6 linked regions of the Homo sapiens genome follow. The protein of the gene in region 1 purifies or fractionates together with the protein of each later gene. This does not show direct contact. Each region holds a gene or a part of one and is shown on either strand. Other genes may lie near its edges. The genes, in order: NEK9, CCDC198, BOP1, DPY19L1, ZAR1L and CAP1.

Region 1 (3,534 bases):
TCATAGGGTGGGGGAAGGGGGGAGGGATAGCATTAGGCGATATACCTAATGTAAATGACGAGTTAATGGGTACAGCACACCAACATGGCGTATGTATACATATGTAACAAACCTGCACGTTGTGCACATGTACCCTAGAACTTAAAAGTATAATAAAAAAAAAAAAAAGGAAACTAAGACAATATCAGTGGTGAATTTGCTAACATTTTTGAAGACAGAATGGTAATTACATTCGATAAGCCTAAACAGGATCAGTGATTTGGGAGAAATCTAAAAAACTCCAATCAATCAAAAAAACTCCAGGAAGGTGATGCATGGAAATATGTTTTTTTTTATAACATTAATTTGCTTGTTCCTATTTCAATAAGGTAAAAGCTGAATTTCATCATTTTATTCTTTGTAATCAATTTATTTGTTGAAGTATAACACACTGCAAAATATCACACAGCTTGACACATTTTTCTATATACATATACTGGTAAAACCATTACAGATCAAGATATAGACCATTCCCATTACTCTAGGATCCCTTCCACCTCTTCTGTTAATACCCCTCCTTCAATAAGTAGCCACAGTTTTGATTTCTGCCAGTATAAGTTAATTTTGCCTGTTCTTAAATTTTACACAGATAGAGCTATATAGCATGTACTCTTTGTGGCTGGCTTCTTTTTCTGCACACAATGCCTATGAGACCATAACTAAAGTCAAATTCCATGGTCACTAACCAATAATGGCATCTCAAAGAAATTCCAACCTAGAGAAATTCTGATGATGTGGTTAGAACACCAATCAGGACACTCACTTCATGGTTGATAATTCCCGACATGCACTGATTCAGACCCAGCTTATTGAATTCATTGAGTCCACAGGCCAGCACTTTGCCTGACTGGGTCAACAGAAATGTCCCATCACAGCCACATTGAACTGCAACAATAATCAAGGCCTTGGGAACATCCACCTGCAAGAAAAAAATCAGAAAAAGAAATCCCAAATATATAATTCGTATTAGAAAAAAAGCTCTCAAATTCTTTCAAAAGAGACATGCTGCATTTAGCAGAATGACTACAGGAAAGTGAGGACTGCTCTATTCTTTTCAGGTTTGCCCAGTGTCTTAGAGACTACTTTTTCTTTTTTTTTTTTTTTGAGATAGAGTTTCCCTCTTTTGCCCAGGCTGGAGTGAAGTCGTGCGATCTTAGCTCACCGCAATCTCTGCCTCCCAGGTTCAAGCGACTTCTCCTGTCTCAGCCTCCCAAATAGCTGGGATGACAGGTGCATGCCACCACGCCCAGCTAATTTTTGTATTTTTATTAGAGATGAGGTTTTGCCACGTAGGCCAGGCTGGTCTCGAACTCCTGACCTCAGGTGATCTACCCACCTTGGCCTCCCAAAGTGCTGGGATTACAGGTGTGAGCCATCACGCCTGGCTGAGACTACTATTTTCTTTTCTTCTTTTTTTTTTTGAGGTGGAGTCTTGCTCTGTCGCCCAGGCTGGAATGCAGTGGTATGATCTCAGCACACTGCAACCTCTGCCTCCCAGGTTCAAAGCGATTCTCCTGCCTCAGCCTCTTGAGTAGCTGGGATTAAAGGCGTGTGCCACCATGCCCAGTTAATTTTTGTGTTTTTAGTAGAGACAGGGTTTCACCATGTTGGCCAGGCTGGTCTCGAACTCCTGACCTCAAGTGATTTGCCCGCCTCGGCCTCCCAAAGTGCTGGGATTACAGGCGTGAGCCATTGTGCTCGGTCAAGGCTACTGTTGTCAACGAAGAGCTCAAGTTTTACAATATCAAAGAAAAGGTGACAGTTCCAGGTCAACTAAACAAGACAGCACCCTCTCAGTTTGTCTTAGTAATAGGTCCTACTTAGGGTGACCTGTCAAAAAGTTGAGAAAGAAGCTTCAATTCATTGCTGATTTTGTCCTTTGAGATGGAAGGCTGCTTGACAGTTACAGAAATTCAGTAGCCCTGTGGGGTCCCAATCTGGTCATTTTATAGGAGAGGTGACAGAGTACTGAGGTAATATCTAGGACTTCCAAATGCTCATATCTTTTTACAGCTAACTAGACAGGACTGGAGAAGGTGGGGTGATGCATGTGTGGGGTCACAATGGATGTGTGTAAAACCTGAAACCTCAACCCTCAGTTTCTGCCACAGCCTTTCCAGGAGAAAAGGAACAGCTGGGAATCCCATTGAGGATGGTCCCTAGAAATGCATAATAATTTAATTTTTAAAATATAAATAAAAACTGGTTTGGCTAAAAGTTCCCAAGGAAAGAAAAAAAAAAAAGAAAACAGAAAACCCAAAACACTGCTAACAATAAATGGTATAGCTGATTTAGCCAACCCTCCAATGGGTAAGCCTGTGCCCTAGGGTAGGTGGGAGAGATGTGACTGTGCTTTTCCCCCAGCTGGTATCAGCCTCTGTGAGCCTCTCACAGGGCCAGCTCTGGCAAGGCTGAGAGTAATTAGATAATATGTTTCATGCAACATGACCGCTAAACAAAAACAACTATTAATATTTCATCTGGTGGTCAACTGTAGAAACAGGAGAGGAAAATGGCTGTGTTGGGTTAAGAGACAGTATACTGCTTTACAGTATCTTCTCGAGTTTTCCAGGGTATTTGTAGCTATATGTGACTTTTCTGCTGTACACGCTGATTTTAGCTGTCATCCCTGAGTAAGATGTGACTTCACAATGTCCACAGTCGCTGTATCCACTTTCTCAATTTTCTGTGATTTGGTCAGATGACAAGACCACAGGGTGCTAAATCAGGAATCCTAAATTGTCAGTCTCCCAAACAGGAAACACTTCGGAAATAAATACCTTGATACAACAGAGCCAAGGAAAGAGGACATATTATTGGAGTCTGTGCGACTTAAGATAGGTTTTAGAAATAAGTTGCTTCTGATTTTACCTTTTGTGGTGTATAATAATCCTCTTCTGAATCCAAACCCAGTCGTCCTGAAACACACATAAGAATGAAAATCATTATAATGAGGGCTTCCTTCCCAGTGAATAGGTTCTGTAAGATTCTCTTTTGCCAGGTGCGGTGGCTCACACCTGTAATCCCAGCACTTTGGGAGGCCGAGGCAGGTGGATCATGAGGTCAGAAGTTCGAGCGAGACAAGCCTGGCCAGTGTGGTGAAACCCCATCTCTACTAAAAATACAAAAAATTAGCTGGGTGTGATGGTGTGTGCCTGTAATCCCAGCTACTCGGGAGGCTGAGGCAGGAGAATCACTCGAACTCGGGAGGTGGTGGTTGCAATGAGCCCAGATCATGCCATTGCACTCCAGCCTGGGTGACAGAGAGAGACTCTGTCTCGAGAAAAAAAAAAAAAAAAAAAAAAAAGATTTACTGAATTAACACTTCTCATTTAGGGGCTGCATGATGGGTTTAGATGCATACAACTTTGAAGTCAGGTTGTATACCTGTGAAGAAGTGGACAGAGACAAGGCTACCCCTACCATATTCGCCACAGCCCCAAGAATAGACTTCCTTGTTTCGTGTCAGAACCACCACATGATTATCTCCACAGG
Region 2 (3,534 bases), about 18 Mb from region 1:
TGATATGGGGGTTGCAATGTCAATTGATTGGTCAGGGTGGGTCTTATAGGGACAGTGAGATTTGAACAAATATTTGAAGATGAGGGAGTTATCCAAGGAGATCATCTGAGGACACACTATATGTGTGGGGGAAACACCTCCAATTTAAGCTAGACCTGAAATGGTTGGATAAGAAGGTGATCAGGCCAGAGGGGACAGTGCTAATCAACTCCTCAATAAAAAGGCCCATTTGATTCGGAGTTCCCTGGCAGAGGCTCTCAAAGCCTCTCAGCTCCAGGCTGGATAACGCTAGTTCATGACTTGCTCTTTATTTGAGGAGTAGATGTTTAGGAAGTAGAAGGTGCCAAAAATATATCTCAAATAATTTAGCATACAATTAGATTTGGTTTAATAATTTAAAATAATTTTAGAATTTTCTTTGGCAGAAATTAGGCTATTAATTAGCATGTCATGAGGACCCAGCATGTATTATTCTCTCAAAAACTCATTTGTGCTGGAAAATGTGCTGAGCTTCATTTGTGAAGATAATTATAGCTGATCTCTTTGGGAGTGTCTGCCAAGTTTCTAGTGATTTCCCTCCTCTCTGGGAGCTGACTTCAGAGTCTACAGGGGAGATGACTCTGCCCACATATCTACTGCATGAGCATATCCTCTGGCCATAGCTCATTGGACCAGAGCTGAAATCATGAGCAAAGCTGAGCCGATATCCTTTCTCCTAGGAATCTGGAATTGGAGTCAAAAAGGCCAATCTGTCCATTTGACTGGAACTGTAAGATACAAGCTCAGGGTGGCCATATTTCATTGTGTACCTGAAGAACAGAAAAAACTGATCTTTGGGGAGAAAGAGTATAGCAAATGCACAGAGAAGAACTTAGGGATTGAGAGAGCTCTGCATTTCAGGTTGCAAGGTATAATTCTTCCCTGAAGCTTAGGTGTCTCCCAGATCTTTGGTTCAATAAAACATTCCTATATCCTTTGATTAATCATGTTAGTTATTTTTGCTAGTCAATGAGACTTCTAATACAGTCATGTTACAGTGATGGTACAGACTTCTAATACAGTGATTACAGGTCTGCAGTAGCAGGGAGTGCACTTTGAGTGCTTTATCCCCCCTCCAGCAGGGATGATGGGTCTCACTGTCATTCATTTACTCATTCATTTTACTCACAAACCTTTGTGGATCTCATATTAAGTATTAATGGCTGAAGACATAAGATTGAATAAGACATAGTCTTTGCAACCTACAGAATGGGAGAAAATTTTTGCAGTCTATCCATCTGACAAAGGTTTAATATCCAGAGTCTGCAAGGAACTTAAACAAATTTACAAGGAAAAAACAAACAACCCCATTAAAAAGTGGGCAAAGGACATGAACAGACACTTCTCAAAAGAAGACATGCATACAGTCAACAAACATGAAAAAAGCTCAACATCACTGATCATTAGAGAAATGCAAATCAAAACCACAATGAGATACCACCTCACACCAATCAGAATGGCTATATTAAAAAGCCAAAAAACAACAGATGCTGGAGAGGTTGCGGAGAAAAAGGAATGCTTTTACACTGTTAGTGGGAGTGTAAATTAGTTCAACCATTGTGGAAGACAGTGTGGTGATTCCTCAAAGACCTAGAGGCAGAAATACCATTTGACCCAGCAATCCCGTTACTGGGTATATACCCAAAGGAATATAAATCATTCTATTATAAAGATACATCGATGCATATGTTAATTGCAGCACTGTTCACAATAGCAAAGACATGGAATCAACCTACATGCCCACCAGTGATAAACTGGATAAAGAAAATGTAGTACATATACACCATGGAATACTATGCAGCCACAAAAAGGAACGAGATCATGTTCTTTGCAGGGACATGGATGGAGTTAGAAGCCATTATCCTCAGCAAAACTAACTCAGGAACAGAAAACCAAACACTACATGTTCTCACTTATAAGTGGGAGCTGAACAATGAGAACATATGGACACAGGGAGGGGAACAACACACACTGGGGCCTGTCAGGGTTGGTGGAGAGGGAGAGCATCAGGAAGAACAGCTAATGAATACTGAGCTTAATAGCTAGGTGATGGGATGATCTGTGCAGCAAATCACCGTGGCACTTATTTACTTTTATAACAAACCTACACATCCTGCACCTGTACCCCTGAACTTAAAAGTTGAAGAAAAAAAAGGCACAGTCTTTGCACTGAAATAATTCATTTGTCTTGATTCTTTGTTTTTAAGATGGTTGGTTAGGGTGTGTGTGTATGGGGGTGGTGGTGCAGTGTTTGACTCTGAAATACCAATGTTCTCTTTTTGACCTTGTTTGACTATTGAGAAAATCAAAACCTAACCTCCTTTGTTTAGGACTGATAGATATAAAAAGTACTTGTGAGCTATAAAGTACTAGACAAATATTTTTTACTAGAGTAATATCTTCTATTTGAACTAATCAGCTTAGAGGCTTCACAGAAACATGTATTAAACTCATCCTTTGAAAGGAAGTATTTGATTTAGGAATAAAACACATTTTAAACTGCCCTGTTTACCTAGAGGATTTGTAAAAACTTGTAAATTAGATATTAATTTGTTATATTTCATTTTATTTTTCTTTATCTAAATAATGATTTTATAGTTTCTAATATTTTGGGAAAAGATACTCTTTTGAGACAAAATGATACAATCACTTCAAATAATGGCTGTGAGCTTCTGCAGAAGACAGGTAAATAAAAACCAACTGAAACAGAAATAATCCCCAACAAATGAGCTCCAGTACCCCTGGGATTGGTCCAGGCATCTGGGTGAATTGTGTAGCAGGTGGGATTTGGCTTCAAATGTCAGTGATAGATCCTGCTCACAAGAGAGCCCCAAACCCTCCTTCCAATGATGCTCATTTTCAAGGACCACTCCAATCTACCCATTCCCTTTCTAGGTTGAGAGTTCTTAAAATGTATAGCTAGCTGCAGAGAACCCATTAAATATTTATTGGGGTGAATGCGTTTAAAGCTCTTGCTTTGCTTCCTTGGAATCCAGTGTCCCGAATTTAAACAACCAGTTAACATCTAGAACAATAAAAGGTTAAAGATAGAAGGACTATAGAAATTACTTATGCTGACAGTTAAGAGTACAGACTTTGGAGACCTGGTTGATATCTGGCCTCTGTGAGTCTTTGGGGGTAGTTACTGAACTCTCTGACTAGCATGTATAAAACAAAGATAATTCTTCCTTTTTCATAGGTGGCTAAGAAGATTAAATGAATGACATAGATTGAATTGCCTAGTATAGTATCTGACTTGTAGTAGGGTGTAATTAAATAGTAGTAGCTGTTATTATTTATTACAAGTTGTTTTCCCATAGTCACCCAACTAATCAGTGCTAGATTCAAGCCTCTTGAATTCCATGGTATCTATGTCCTTGCTACTAGCTTCTTTCGGTGGCTGGTCTTAAAAGCGAAATCATTGCTAAAGGAAATCTTAAAGTAATAGAGTATTTGCGATTGATGACATTTTTCTTTAAGAACATTCTCATTAAT
Region 3 (2,981 bases), on another chromosome or scaffold:
GGCCAAGCCCCAGGGGCTGTGTGCCCCACCTTCTCCTTCTCCACCAGGGAGGGGATGAAGCTGCGCTTGTCGGCCGGGCGGTTGGTCACCGGGTGGATCATGACGTCCCCGCTGAAGAAGTCGACAGCCGGCTGGGGGAGAAGATGTGGGCGTGTGGGCCAGAGTGGCTGAGGCCCTGCTGGTGCCTCCAGGACCCCCGCCGCCCAGGGGCCAGCCCCTGCCACCTACCTCATAGGGGTTGAAGCCCACATCCCCAAACTGGCCACTCTGCAGCCGCCGCACCAGGGCCACCTGCTCATCCGTCAGTCTCAGGTCCCGCCCTGTCATCGGGTCCTGCACGGTGCGCCTGGAGACCGCCAGTCAGACCCCGCCAGCCCTGCCCCACCCCTCGGGCCCACCCCGGCTGCTGGCCCCACCCCACCAGCCCTCACCAGTAGTCAGGATCGTCCATCTTGTCCAGGAACTGGTCCAGCTCATCCCGGGTCCGCAGGGGCTTGTAGATGCGCCTGCCATCCAGGTCGTAGCCCACGTGGGGGAAGTCATCGTACCACTCCAAGGGCACGTTGCCCACCGTGTTCCGGATGTCCTGCAGCCGGGGGCCACCATGTCGGCATCTGATCCTACAAGGCCCACCCCCGCTTCGGGCCGCCCAGGGGAGCAGGTGAGGGGGTTGCAGGGGGAGTGCAGGCCCAGCCTCAAGTGCCCTGAGGTCACTGGCCCTGACCTACGCCTGTTCCCCAGCCCTGGGGTCTGACGTGGCATGGCGGCCACGCTGCCCCCACCCCCGCCCTCGGAGGCGCCGGAGCTGCACCTTCACATTTTCCACTGAAGTGGTGCCAACCCCAGAGCTCCCCCCTCACTGGATTCCTTGGCCAGGGCTCTGGGCAGCCACAGACAGGGATGACCTCATCACCCACGGGCTCCCTCCCCTGGCAGGGGCCTTAGGCAGAAGTGGGCAGCTATAAGACGGGGACTCGGGGAAGACCCCAACTGACCCATTCCACAGAGAGGCAGAAGCCAAGACCTCTCTGTGGGGGACCCCCCACCGTCTGCCCTCGGCCCCTCCCCAGGCAGAACAGCCACGTTCCTGGACGTACATTCCTGGTTGCAGCCCCTGCCAGCCGCCACCCTCGCTCCTTCCAGCCTGGGGACCGCTGCCCAGGAGGCTGCTTCCTGCAACAGTAGCCACGGGGAGGGGCCCAGGCAAGACAGAGCACAGCTGGGAGCCTGCCGGGCCCCCTGCTGCAGGAGGGACCCCTTGGGCCCTGCCCCCTGCTGAGGGTCCTTCCCTCTCCTCCCCATGGAGATAGGGGGCCATCCCCAAATTGGATAATGGGGGTATGTGTGTGCTTCCTGAGGGGCCTGGTGGCCCTGGAGAGGAACGGGGGAAGGAGGAAGGGGCAAGGAGACCGACGGGGTGAGAGGTCCACACAGCACAAGAACAGGGGACATGGCCAGCTAGCAGAAGGCACAGTCTGTGCCAAGCCTGGAGAGGCAGGTGCAGGACAGACAGGCGGAGAGACTGAGCTCTAGGCCCCTAAATACTCGCCTGTGCCCGCCCCCTGCACACGGCCTGGCACAGGCAGGCGCTGGCGCACATGGGAGGCAAAGACAGACAGGGTGCGGTCAGGCAGCAGGGCCAGGGCGGCTGGGTTAACTCAGTTGTGCCACGGGAGAAAACGGGGTGGTGGGTTCCTCCCCTCTCCCGGGGACGGGGGGCACTGCAGTTTTGGGGCCCTGAGTAACTACAGCCCAGAAGCGACCTCCCAGTTCCTCCGCATCCCCAGAGACGGAACGATGCCCCCAAAGACCAGCCCCGCCCCCCCCACCCCCGCCAAAGCGTGGCCACAGAAGGCCGAGGGACGCGGCGGGCGCTGCTCGAGGAGCCTCCGGGCTGAGAGGGGCGGGGCGTGCGCGGGGGAGGGGCCGGGACGCCGCTATAAAGGCGCAGCTCGGGGCCCCGCTCCGGCCCGGGACGCACATGTGCGCGCGACGCCCGGCAGCTGCCACCGCGGGGCGCAGCCGAGACCCCGCGCCTCGCCCCGGCCGGCCCGCGAGGCCCGCGGCGGCCGCAGGAGGCGGCATGAGCAGCGCGCGACAGAGCTGACGCCGCGCCCCCGCCGGCCCCATGTCCTTCGCCACGCTGCGCCCGGCGCCGCCGGGCCGCTACCTGTACCCCGAGGTGAGCCCGCTGTCGGAGGACGAGGACCGCGGCAGCGACAGCTCGGGCTCCGACGAGAAACCCTGTCGCGTGCACGCGGCGCGCTGCGGCCTCCAGGGCGCCCGGCGGAGGGCGGGGGGCCGGCGGGCCGGGGGCGGGGGGCCAGGGGGCCGGCCAGGCCGTGAGCCCCGGCAGCGGCACACGGCGAACGCGCGCGAGCGAGACCGCACCAACAGCGTGAACACGGCCTTCACGGCGCTGCGCACGCTGATCCCCACCGAGCCCGCCGACCGCAAGCTCTCCAAGATTGAGACGCTGCGCCTGGCCTCCAGCTACATCTCGCACCTGGGCAACGTGCTGCTGGCGGGCGAGGCCTGCGGCGACGGACAGCCCTGCCACTCCGGGCCCGCCTTCTTCCACGCGGCGCGCGCCGGCAGCCCCCCGCCGCCGCCCCCGCCGCCTCCCGCCCGCGACGGCGAGAACACCCAGCCCAAACAGATCTGCACCTTCTGCCTCAGCAACCAGAGAAAGTTGGTGAGCACGGGCCGTGGGGCGCCGAGGGGGGCCTCCAACGCGCCCCTCAGCCCACACCTGCCAGGCAGAGGAGGCGAGGCCACACGGGCAGGGCTCCCCAACAGGGCACAGGCAGGCACACCTGTAACACAGGCCTGCCGGGGGCTGGGGCCTTCTCCTGGGGCTCCTCTCCAGGGCGTCCCTAGGACACTCGGCTCCCAGTGGAGTGTGGAGTCCCCTGCAGGGAGCTGCATGAGGGGTAAGAGCTAGGGATGGCCAAAGGGGCCCACCCAGGGCGGGGAGGCTG
Region 4 (3,534 bases), on another chromosome or scaffold:
GAAATAAAGAAGATCCCCATTCTGGTAGAAAGCTATGCTAAGAACTGAGTTCTTCCTATTGCAAATGTCAGCCTATCATTCATTTCATATAATTTCCTAAGATCGTCATGAGATGCTTAGAACTTTTCTGTCCTAAATTTATATAACAATGTTAAAGGTGAGTATGTGAATTTCATATACATATTCACAAACGCTTAAAACATTTTCTGAATTATTACAAAATAACATTTTCTATAAATCCTGACTGAATTCAAACCACGTAGCACACGTTCATAGGAGAATCATTCTATAATCAACAATTATTTTAGTTTCCTTGTGAGCAAAGCTGTAGATACTATGTCACAGAACTATTTTTCACTCACGACTCAGTATTTAACAATGTTGTCTTAATACCATATGTGTCATTGAAATATATGGTGGGAAAGTGTGATCAAGCCACAAATATAGCAATCTCTTGAACGCTTTTGTTTAGTTACAGAATAGTAAGAATTTAAAAAATATTATTATTCCATAAAATAGTGTTTATTTCTGATAAAATTGTTCCTGTACTGTGCTCTTCATGAAGTGAATGTTTTGGTACTTTAAAAGCAGGCTACTGTCACCTGGTGTCCAGTCACTTACGTGCCACATTTCTAGATAGCTTTAGATTCACATCTGCTTTGAAGATCTTACTGTCACTTGGAGCTATACTCAGCTTAGTAAACATCTCTGTGGAAATAGAAACTTAAAAACTATAAACCCAAGAGAAAGTGGGTCACAGTAGAGTCATTTTCCCATTCAAGTAAGATGTGAAACACCAGGAAAGAAAAATTTCATTCTGAGTTTTTGCTGACAGGGTATCCCATCCATCGACAGGACATGGTGTAGCACAGAGACCCAGTAAGGATAATGTGACCCCTGGTGCTCAGCTGCCTGACTTCACCAAAAGAGACTCCCCATTACTTGGTTTCAGACCCTGGAAGTCTTTTGAAAGAAAATACATCCAACTTTAAATAAAAGTTTCTTTTAAAACATCAAAGGCAAATATGAACAATTTGGGAGATTATCAACTAGTGCCAATAAAATCTCTTTAAGGTAGTATACACATACAAATCATTATTTAAAAAAAAAAGATATTTATAAAGACTATAAAAGAAAGTCTCCAAATCATTATCTAAAAAGTTTTTTCAGGCCAGGCGTGGTGACTCACGCCTGTACTCCCAGCACTTTGGGAGGCCAAGGCAGGAGTAGCACTTGAGGCCAGGAGTTTGAGACCAGCCTGGTCAACACAGCAAAACCCCATCTCCACTAAAAATACAAAAATTAAGTGGAGCTTGCAGTGAGCCCAGATCATGCCAGTGCACTCCAGCCTGGGCAACAGAGTGAGAGCCTGTTTAAAAAAAAAAGAAGAAGTTTTTCCATGTATACTTTATGTTATATACACACCCCCGCCACCAGCAAAGCATGTGCCATGTGCTTGAATTAACCTTCATGTCTTATGATTATAAAATGTTAACTGTGTTGATACTCACTTGGATCTTCTTACACACCATGACTCTTCTAGAATGTAATAGTTCACTTTTAACTTTATCAGTTCTCGCTTCACTTCTTCGGCTGCTTTCCGACTATACATTGAGTATACTATTTTTGTTCTGGCTCTTTAAAGAAAAATAATTGGGCATAAAATTTTCAAGACTAAAACGATACAATAACACATTTGGAAGAAAGCACTGAATTAGACTAGAAGACGATGAAGAAGAATCCAGTCAGGAGGAAATTCCCCATGGAAGTTCCCGCTAAGGGGCATCAGTGAGGTCAAAAGCAGAAGGCAGGAGGAGGACAAGTTGTGGAGAAGAGGGTGACCTTTAACACACCCCTACATTCCCAAACTTGGTCTCTTTGTGTTTGTTCACTTATTTATTTGTCTTAAATTCTTCACTTCGCTATCACATGTAAGAGTAAGGTACCCTGTGTGTGAACAGGGATGAACTACAACAAACACAACTATAGGACTACTGTGAAGCTGCAACAGTCCCAACTTAGACATCAACAATAATTCACATTAAATGGTTCTTCATTTTATTTCTAGATTTAAGAAAAACTAAACTTATTTAACAAAATTGGTCTGGAAATTAGCTTGATGAGATTGATTTTTTAATGAAAAAGCTTATTTGTGAATGTACATGCCATTGTTATGAAAAAGAAGATGCTAATAAGATTCACCTAATCACTTAGAAAATGAATAGCTTCACCTGCCTTAGAAACTGCAAGAAAAATTAAATTTTTAAAAAAAAATTTGGACAACACATCTCTAAATTATTTTTTAAAGTCTCAAAAAAATCTAAAAAAACATAAAACACCCAAGATCATTCTAACAGGCTATACTGGTGAAAACCAGAATAAACTCCTCTTTGAATGGGATTCTATTTCAAATGACTTCTCCAAACTCAAGAAAAATCACCTATGAGAAAACCTTAATAAACACTCTAAGCTAAACTCCCCAGGGAGTTACAGGATGAAAAGGACTTGGACATTTTAGAGCCCTGTTAACCTGTGGGAAAGTGCTATAGTATGACTTCGTTTATATGCCTGGTAGAGAAGAGAGCCCCCAAAGTTGTCACTTTCCTGCCCTGTGAAGCTTTAACGGATTTGTTTAGAGCTTAGCGGTCTTATTTCAGCTTTCTGCTCCCTGACTCGATAAGCCTCAGTTCATCATATCCTTTTGAAACATTCCTTATTACTTTGCTGGTGTCCTCCACTCACTGTCTGTTTGCATGGGAGGTTTGTTTTGATGATGCAAGACTGTGCACTGACCTCAAGCCTGCGTCTTCATAATGTGGATGATTCACAATGGGCCGAAGTGCAGAGAGCTTAACACTTGCCATCGTGGGCATGGCACCCGCAAACACTGCATCTGGAAGGCAAGAGGAATGTCTCAGGAAGACACTCAGTGAAGGCGAGAAGGTGTCTCCTTCAAGTGTAAATCAATTATTTCACAGGTAACAGAGCGGAAGCCCAGCAGGTTCATGACTTCAAGATTCAATGGCAGAACTAGCATGAAGTCAGATGGCTGATAAAGTAGCAGTTGGCAGCCAGGCCTGGGTAAACTATTTTCCTTGGAAAACAGAGCTTCATCATCTCATCATTAAAGATTTCTTTCTTTCTTTAAAGAAAAAATCTTAGAAATCTTTCCTGAATCTAAAAAAGAAGTATCAAATGGACTAGGAAAGCTTTACAGTAACAAGGAGTTCTGGAAGATGATTTAGTATTCAATCATTTGATACTCAGATGACAACAAAGTCTCCCTTTCCACACATGAATAAAATGTCACATTCCATGAGTTTATTTCAAGAAGGAATGTGAAGGACTAATATTAAAAATTCATTAAGAAAATAAGCACAGGAAAAATTATTTTAAATGTGGCATTTATGACTGTGAATAAATTTTGAAAAAATTAAAATCTATAAAAAATGGCAGAATAAATTACTAAGAACATATGTATAACATTTCCCCTGCAAACCATTTAAACAGGATTGATATCTCCTTTGTTTTAGA
Region 5 (3,534 bases), on another chromosome or scaffold:
CCATTGCATCTTGCTTTTACCAACTTCTACCCTTGCCTTGCCTTTTATCTTGCTTTTACCAACCTCTACCCTTGGGGTTTCAAGGTGTACTAGTTCTTATTAATCACTTTTTCTTTGAATCTAATTTTCCTTACCCATAAAATTGGAATACATTTTTTTTTTTTTTTGAGATGGAGTTTTGCTCTTGTAATCCAGTCTGGAGTGCAATGGTGGGAAATCGGCTCACTGCAACCCCCGCCTCCTGGGTTCAAGCGATTCTCCTGCCTCAGCCTCCTGAGTTGCTGGGATTACAGGTGCCCGCCACCACACCCGGCTAATTTTTTGTATTTTTAGTAGAGACTGGGTTTTGCCATGTTGACCAGGCTGGTCTCAAACTCCTGGCCTTAAATGATCTACCCACCTCGGCCTCCCAAAGTGCTGGGATTACAAGCCTGAGCCACCGCATCCAGCCAGAATAATACGATTAATACTTACTTTTTCCATAGTTCTGAGAACTCCCTAATAATGTACACCAAGTACCACAGTAGATACTCAATGGGAAGTGGCTGCCATACTTTTTGTCCTTATCTTTTAGCTCTTACATGTTTCATTTTTCAGTATTTCCCGGCTTACACTTTAAATTACTTGTGGTTACCCATCAATACCACCTGCTTTCTAGGCTTTGTGCAATTTCCTGTGCACATTTTCTCTCTGCCTTGCTTGGTGAACTCTTCCTCCTATTTATTGTTTCAAATCCTGCTTGGACATCAAGCTGTCTTCCCTCAGACAGAGCTAATACCCTCCTTCCTGTGCTATCTCTGCACTGCTTCCATATGAAGAAGGATGCTACTGCACGTATTGCCAAATTACATTTTGTTTCCATCACTCGTATCAAAATAAATTCCTTGAGAACAAGTCCTGTGTTTTGTTCTTTGTATCCTAGTGCCTTGGAATGTTTGAATTAAACTCATTTTTCTTCTGGCAAGAGAAGGAAGTAAATTCAACTTCAACTTTAAAAATCTATTCACTCTCTAGGTCTCTAGTAAATGGCTAGTGTGAGAAATCAAGTTTTCATCCGGAACTCAATGCCTTTTTGCCCTCTCTCTCCACAGTCCTTTGGCCAGTAAGGCAATTTCTAAACATGCGACAGCACAGGGCGTTCACACTCAAATGCTTATGGAGGTTAATAACATCGGGCCACGTAGACTGTTGCAAAACGAGGTGCACAGGGCAAGGAAAAGAAGAGGAAGCCTTAGGGGCAGCCTGCTGTTCTCATTCTCAAACGAGGGTCTCTAATGACCAGAGCCTACAGGATTCACGAAAATGCAGAAATGCAGAATTTAATGTGAAGCCTTTTCCAGTCCTAATATGTTGGCAATTAAATTAGGAAGGGGGCAAAAGAAACTTTAGGCGTAGCCTAAGTCTCTTACAGGCAAATCTTTACAGTAAGTTTTTTCACTTATTGCCCCACCTTGTGGACAAACAGTGGAAATTTCCTAGCGCTAAGGCCCAGACCTGTTCCAAGCATACCAACTAAAAAACGGTTAGAAAAACTTCCAATGTAGACAAGAACAAAAGTTCATCTAAGTAACCTGACATCTTGTCATATATAACGCCAGAGTATGGTTCGGAAACCCAGGTGGACAGTCCGATTCAGTTCCATTCATTCACTGAGCACTTCCTGTACACCTGGCACGGGGGATGCCACCAAGATCAAGACAGGACTATGACAGCCATGCTCCCTCAGGAATCAGATTCTTCCCCGCTTACCATCCGTGCCCACCCCATCCTCCTCTCACCTCCTACTCTTTTTATTTACCTTGTTCGTTCCAGAAATGCACCACACGTAAGCACTCTCCCACCTGGTCTTACAATCTTTACAGTGGAAATAGCCATATTTTGGTTCCAAAAACTGAAAATAAAGAAGAAAAGTACTTTACCATCATGCAAGGGGAAAAAAGCCAGATCCTTCTTTATGACTTTGTATAAGGAAAAAAAAATGACTTCTTTAACCTCACTTGTATCTATTCTCAAGACTACGGCATTGATTCAGTTTCTCATCTCTCTTAAAGATTACTCTGGGATTCTTCTTGCTGCTGTCGTTTGTACTTTTCCAATCCATTTTCCACAATGCTACCGGCACAATCTTCCCAAAACGAAAGTCTGATTTCATGTATTACAGACTCGAAGCCCTTCTTCGTCTCCAAATTCTCCAATAGCAGTGGTTGCCAGACTGTTGGTTTTCACAGGCTTAGTTTGGGTTGGCACCTATTTTACCCAAAACTTACCAAACATACAGGCCACGTGATATACATATTTTCAGAGCTCCCTCTCCTTCACCAAGTACATGGAAGAAGAGAGAGAAGATTTTGCTCTTATTGCCCCCATAGATGGAAAAGGAGGGAGGGGATGAGGCTGGTCGAGGACTAAGAAGAGGGAAGAGAGGATCTACCTGGAAGTTGGGCCTCCGGAGCGGCTCGGAGGCGGCGTCTCCAGGCACCTGCTTGCTCTTCGTCTCCTGAGGGCACGGGGCGTCTTTCTCCCCCGATTCCTCCAGCTGCCCGGGCTCCTCCTGCCTGTCAGCTCCTGACCTCCGTGATGGTGGCTGCGGCTGGCTGGCCTCCGCAGGGCCCGGGAGCGCCTTGCTCTCCGCTTCGTCCCCATCTCTCCGCAGGCGGATCAAGCCCCTGCGGCCGGTGGCGGGCGAAGTGACCCCACAGGCTGGCAGGGGCTCCTGGGGGTCTCTGCCGTCCCAGGGGGAGCAGCTGCTGAGGGTGCGAGGCCCCAGAGAGCACTGCACAGCCTTGTCCACCCGCGGGCTCACCTGCACGCCCACCTCCTTGGTGTTGGGCTTGCACAGCCGCGGGCTCAGGCTGGGGTTCATCTGGGAGAGAATGGCCTTAAGCTGCGCCCTCTTGTAAGGGTCAATGCAGTAGTCAGGGGCGTTCGCGGGCACCAGCAGCCCTGGCCTGGCCAGAAAAGTGGGAGGACCCATATTTTGCCTCCAGTCGGGCTGTTTGTGCCCTGAGAGTCCAGGCTGGCCCAAAGGCACTGTGCTCCCATAACCCTGGTACAAGCCATAGGGAACACGGACAAAGCGCTCCATCCGCTCTCAGGTGCTCAGGCGCAGTCTAATATCCTAGCCAGTTTGTTTGGGTCCTTATTTTGCCTTCCTCCTTCATCCGCCCCTTCTTTCTCTTCATCAGGTTGGTTCAGATTCATTCCTGGCTTCTCCATTTATTTCAGATTCTAATGGGAGCTGCTGCTTATTACCCTGATTGAGGGAGAGAAGCTCTATCTACAGATGTCTAATTGCCACCTGATTCCTACCTAATTGCTTTTCCCTACCTCTTCACTGTTCGGGAATCTTTTTTTCAAAGCTGTTTTTCATTTCCAGCTTATTCACACATATGCTTTAATTAGTGATTAATTCATATATTCCTGTAGTGACCATTCTAAAGATCCTTTGTAAGGTAATGTGGTAATGTTAGATAATGTTTTAAGGTACAGCCATTATGGACAACAGTATGAAGGTTCCTTAAAAAAGTTAATAGA
Region 6 (4,113 bases), on another chromosome or scaffold:
GCAAACTGCCACCCACAAAATCAAATCCAAACAAATTCAACAAGGCATTAAAAGCCCTTCACGCCGGGTGCGGAGGCTCACACCTGTAATCACAACACTTTGGGAGGGCGAGGCAGGCGGATCACGAGGTCAGGAGTTCGAAACCAGCCTGGCCAGCATGGTAAAATCCCGTCTCTACTAAAAATACAAAAATTAGCCGGGCGTGGTGGCGCACGCCTGTAATCCCAGTTTCTCAGGAGGCTGAGGCAGGAGAATTCCTTGAACCTGGGAGGTGGAGGTTTCAGTGACCCGAGATTGTGCCACTGCACACCAGCCTGGGCAACAGAGCAAGACTCCGTCTCAAAACAAACAAACAAACAAAAAGCCCTTCACAACTTGGCCGACATCTAACCTTTTTTGCAGTCTGGTCTTCTGCAAAACTCCAGGCCCCAGTATCACTGAACAATTTAGGCCCTCTCCTGCCTCCGTATCTTTACTCTTGCTCTTTCCTTTAGCTGACCCACCTTATTAGACATCTTTGCCTGGATGTGCTACAAACACCTCAAACTAAAAACATTCAAAATGCATTTTTTCCCATGTCACTTCCCTAATTTACCTCTCATACTCTCTATCTGAATGGTACTACCCATTCAGTTCCCTAAGCCAGAAAGCCAGGCAATCGCGCTATTCTTACCTCTTCATTCCCATAATCAGCCTCCAATTCTATGGATTCTATCTTCTTAATATTGCTCACATCTGATGCCTCCTCTCCATTCCCATTTCCACTGTCTTAGTTCAGGCCATGTCTACAGCAAGAGCTTCCAAACACTGTTTTACTTCCCCACAGGGCTGGTCCCCTCCTACTTGACAGAATGAACTTTCTGAAATATAAATCTGACGACATCATTTTCCTGCATAAAACCCTTCAAAGCATCTCCATAGCTTTCAGGGTAAAAATCCAAATTCCTTAGCATGACTTACAATGTCCTCCACATATGACTGACCTGACCACATCTCACTTCCTCCACTTCCCCAGCCATTACTAGAATTCCAGTCACACTGAACTCGTCATGGTCTTTCAGCTGTCCGGTTCTCCAGGTCCTTGCACCTGTAGTAGTCTCTGCCTGGAAATCCCTTTTCCGGATTCCCTATGTAGCTAAATAAATATTTCAAGAGTTAGCCTCCCATTTCCTCCTGGAACCCTGGGCACCTGGCTCAGGTATTTCTCCACTGTGCTCTTGTAGCCCTGTGCTATGCACTATGACACTGTAAGCCATCCCTCATTTACTTGTCTATTTCCTCTCCCACTGTAAACTCCAGAAGAACTGTATTCTTTGCCACAAAGGCTATCTCATTAAAATGTGCCTCATACATATTAAGGTCTTAATAAACGTCTGGTGGGGCCGGGCACGGTGGATCATGCCCGTAATCCCAGCACTTTGGGAGGCCGAGGTGGGGGGATCACCTGAGGTTAGGAGTTCGAGAGCAGCCTGGCCTTCACGGCGAAACCCCATCTCTACTAAAAATACAAATAAATAAATTAAATAAAAGTCTGGTAAATGATAAATGTGCTGATATGCCCCCGGATTTTCTCTTGAAGAGAGAGCCCCACAAAGAGCTTCAACTGACACAGTTCTGATGCTAACCTGTCTCAAATGTTCTCATTCCACTCTTCGAACGCATTCCTATTTATCCTTCAAAATTCATCTTAAAAACTCTGCTTCTTCAGAAGGGCTTTTCCTGAACCCCCTGTTACATACTTTCAGAGCACCCTGTTCTTTCCTAACACTCATCAACATTTATAATTACTTCTTAAACATCCCTGCAAACACTGCTAGCTCCACGCGGGCAGGGTCTACATTGTTTTGTTTTAAAGCTGCATTCCCCGCATCTGGGAAAATGCTGGCACAGAATAAACACAATTTGTTACGCTGAATTTAATCTTGTGGGGTCAGCAGAGATCTCCACTTAAAAGATGAACAAAAGGAGGCTGAAAGAAGTTTAAGGCACCTATGGCCACAGACACTCAGCACTGAGGCCAGACCAAACCTGAGCCGTCTGATTTCAGGTCCAGAAGTACATACCTTCAATGTTAGCCTGGCTTGTCAAAGTAAGAGCAGCAGCCGAGGAGGAAAGGGAGGATATCTGCCTGTAAATACAAGGATGTGCCCGCCTTTCTTTTAAAAACTCCCTAGGCATTTCAAACGGCTCAATTTGGGAGGAGAGAAAAAAAAAAGTTCCACGCAGCGCTGGCCTTTAACCTGCAGCAGCCTGCGGGGCAACACCGACCGGAAGACCATCCCAAGTTAGAGAGGTTCCGAGCAACACGGGAAGAACTGGGGCTGGTTATCTAAGGCACCAGGATCATGATTCCGATTCTTTTCCTCACTCGCTATATATCTCAGACTAGCCTCTTCTCTAGGGATCAATTTACCTATCAGTGCAATGGGAGCATCAACAGGAGACAGGGAAGACTCTCCGATCTCGGAGGTTCCTTCCAGTCAGAGCACCTCAGGAATCAGGCCTCCGCTGAAGCTGATGGGCAGCGCTGCGAAATCGGGCAGAGGGGCCTCCCCGGGGCACCCGGACTCAGCTGCTCACCCCGGCCCCACCTCAAGAGACCGCGCCCAAGAGTCCGGGTCGGCCTGAGGGCCTCAGCCCCGGCCCTCTCGGCAGGGTTCATGACACGCGCGTAGGCCAGAAGGGCCATTAACACCACCAGGGGCCGATGGGCCCCGGAAGGGACCCCAATCCCTACCAAGCTGCACACCCTCACCTCAGAGTTCCGCCTCACCTCCGGACTGCGATCAGCCGCTCTCCGCTTCCGGCAAGAACCGCCCAGCAATCTCCGCGCGACCCACTTCCGGGCCCTCACTGGGCGCGGCGCCCCCACCGGAAATGAGCCGCCGGCTGAAGCGCTAGGCTGGCCCGCGACTGGGCAGGAAGTCTCACCGCCCCGCTCGTGACTCCGCCCCTCTTCGCCACGCCCCGGAGAGAGCGGCCCGGCTCTCACAGAGGGCACTTGGGAAAGAGCCCCGCCCTCAAGGCGGGAGCGACACGGGGAGGGCGGGCTCACAAGAGAGGCCACGCCCTCGTTCCGCTTTACCTACCCGGAATCGCCCCCGAGGCCCGGGCCCAGGAAGGGCAGAAGTCCCTGGCTAAGCTCCTCTCTGGAAAGAACAGAAGAGTGACCAGTTCCTCTGTCAGTTTGGTCTCAATGGCAGAGGCCGGTTCCTTTAAGCTGCAGTCCGTAAAGGGTCTTGGAACGACTGGGGGCCAGGATTCTCTGAGGGCGGGAATCCGGGCGGCCGTCAGCTCTCGGTGGTGATCGAGGCCACGCTCCGCCTGTCTCTGGGCGTGCATACCTCGGTTTCCCCGTTTGTGACGTGGGAAGGCAATTAGTCTGGACATTGTTGTGGGAGGACTTGCGGAGACTGGGCGCAGGGCGTGGGGGTCAGTGAGGGCGCGGTGGGTCAGCCCCAGCCCGGCTGGCAGTCGCGGGGCTGGGAAGGTAGGGAACCCTCCGCTCTCACCCCACTTCCTGTTTGGTCGGTGTGTTCTGTGACCATAGATGGTCAAGTCTGGGGCCGCGCGGAAGCCTCCGCCCTGTGGTTTTGGAGCCCTTCCTCCCGGCGCGCAGGGTGTGGTCCCCGAGAATAAGATGAGCAGAATTAAAGCAGATCCTGCACCCACTCTGCTGAAATCCGGCTTCTGAGGCAGCCTCGCCCAGGGCTGGGTGGGCTCAGGCGGCTGCTACTCGGTTCAGGGGAGGTTACGCACGGTGGCTGCCGCGCGCAGGGGAGGCTTCGCTTCCGTACTCCTTGGGCCGGGAGATCCGATCTTTGTTCCCTCAAGACTCACACTCTCCAACCGGTCATTATCCTCCCACAAAGATTTATTTCTAGAAAAAATTGGCAAGTGCCACAGTTCCCGCCCCTTCAGCTGAACGACTGTGACAGCTCCGTGTTTCAAGTTGAATGCAGGCGTTATGTGCCAGAGTCAATCATTCAACAAATAAAGTTCTTAAAATAACAGCTACCATTTACTGCACGCTGACTACTTGCCAGGCCCATGCTGAGTTCTTCAAGCGTATTTTCATTTACTCCTAATAGCAACTCTCGGTGGTAGGTACCA

What was found.
Region 2: the proteins of NEK9 (region 1) and CCDC198 purify together in Homo sapiens (affinity purification with mass spectrometry, with the first as the bait; one large-scale study listed by BioGRID). This does not show direct contact.
Region 3: the proteins of NEK9 (region 1) and BOP1 purify together in Homo sapiens (affinity purification with mass spectrometry, with the first as the bait; one large-scale study listed by BioGRID). This does not show direct contact.
Region 4: the proteins of NEK9 (region 1) and DPY19L1 purify together in Homo sapiens (affinity purification with mass spectrometry, with the first as the bait; one large-scale study listed by BioGRID). This does not show direct contact.
Region 5: the proteins of NEK9 (region 1) and ZAR1L purify together in Homo sapiens (co-immunoprecipitation; one large-scale study listed by IntAct). This does not show direct contact.
Region 6: the proteins of NEK9 (region 1) and CAP1 fractionate together in Homo sapiens (co-fractionation; one large-scale study listed by BioGRID). This does not show direct contact.

The regions. Positions count from the first base shown.
Region 1 is NC_000014.9:75,103,040-75,106,573, forward strand, and holds part of NEK9 (serine/threonine-protein kinase Nek9), read right to left. Parts: coding exon 3,463-3,534; coding exon of another isoform or gene 3,427-3,462; intron 2,958-3,426; coding exon 2,911-2,957; intron 959-2,910; coding exon 803-958; intron 1-802.
Region 2 is NC_000014.9:57,487,351-57,490,884, forward strand, and holds part of CCDC198 (factor associated with metabolism and energy), read right to left. Parts: intron 1-3,534. UniProt on the Homo sapiens protein: May be involved in tuning the metabolism, energy expenditure, and excretion processes.
Region 3 is NC_000008.11:144,264,486-144,267,466, forward strand, and holds part of BOP1 (ribosome biogenesis protein BOP1), read right to left. Parts: intron 2,696-2,981; coding exon of another isoform or gene 2,129-2,695; exon of another isoform or gene 1,968-2,128; intron 587-1,967; coding exon 432-586; intron 347-431; coding exon 229-346; intron 132-228; coding exon 30-131; intron 1-29. Other genes in the region: SCX (basic helix-loop-helix transcription factor scleraxis), read left to right, coding at 2,129-2,695. UniProt on the Homo sapiens protein: Component of the PeBoW complex, which is required for maturation of 28S and 5.8S ribosomal RNAs and formation of the 60S ribosome.
Region 4 is NC_000007.14:34,936,483-34,940,016, forward strand, and holds part of DPY19L1 (protein C-mannosyl-transferase DPY19L1), read right to left. Parts: intron 2,894-3,534; coding exon 2,794-2,893; intron 1,638-2,793; coding exon 1,512-1,637; intron 1-1,511. UniProt on the Homo sapiens protein: C-mannosyltransferase that mediates the C-mannosylation tryptophan residues on target proteins.
Region 5 is NC_000013.11:32,308,841-32,312,374, forward strand, and holds part of ZAR1L (protein ZAR1-like), read right to left. Parts: intron 3,254-3,534; 5' UTR 3,086-3,253; coding exon 2,432-3,085; intron 1,892-2,431; coding exon 1,799-1,891; intron 1-1,798. UniProt on the Homo sapiens protein: mRNA-binding protein required for maternal mRNA storage, translation and degradation during oocyte maturation.
Region 6 is NC_000001.11:40,039,444-40,043,556, reverse strand, and holds the start of CAP1 (adenylyl cyclase-associated protein 1), read right to left. Parts: upstream 2,829-4,113; 5' UTR 2,756-2,828; intron 2,532-2,755; exon of another isoform or gene 2,414-2,531; intron 2,129-2,413; exon of another isoform or gene 2,064-2,128; intron 1-2,063. UniProt on the Homo sapiens protein: Directly regulates filament dynamics and has been implicated in a number of complex developmental and morphological processes, including mRNA localization and the establishment of cell polarity.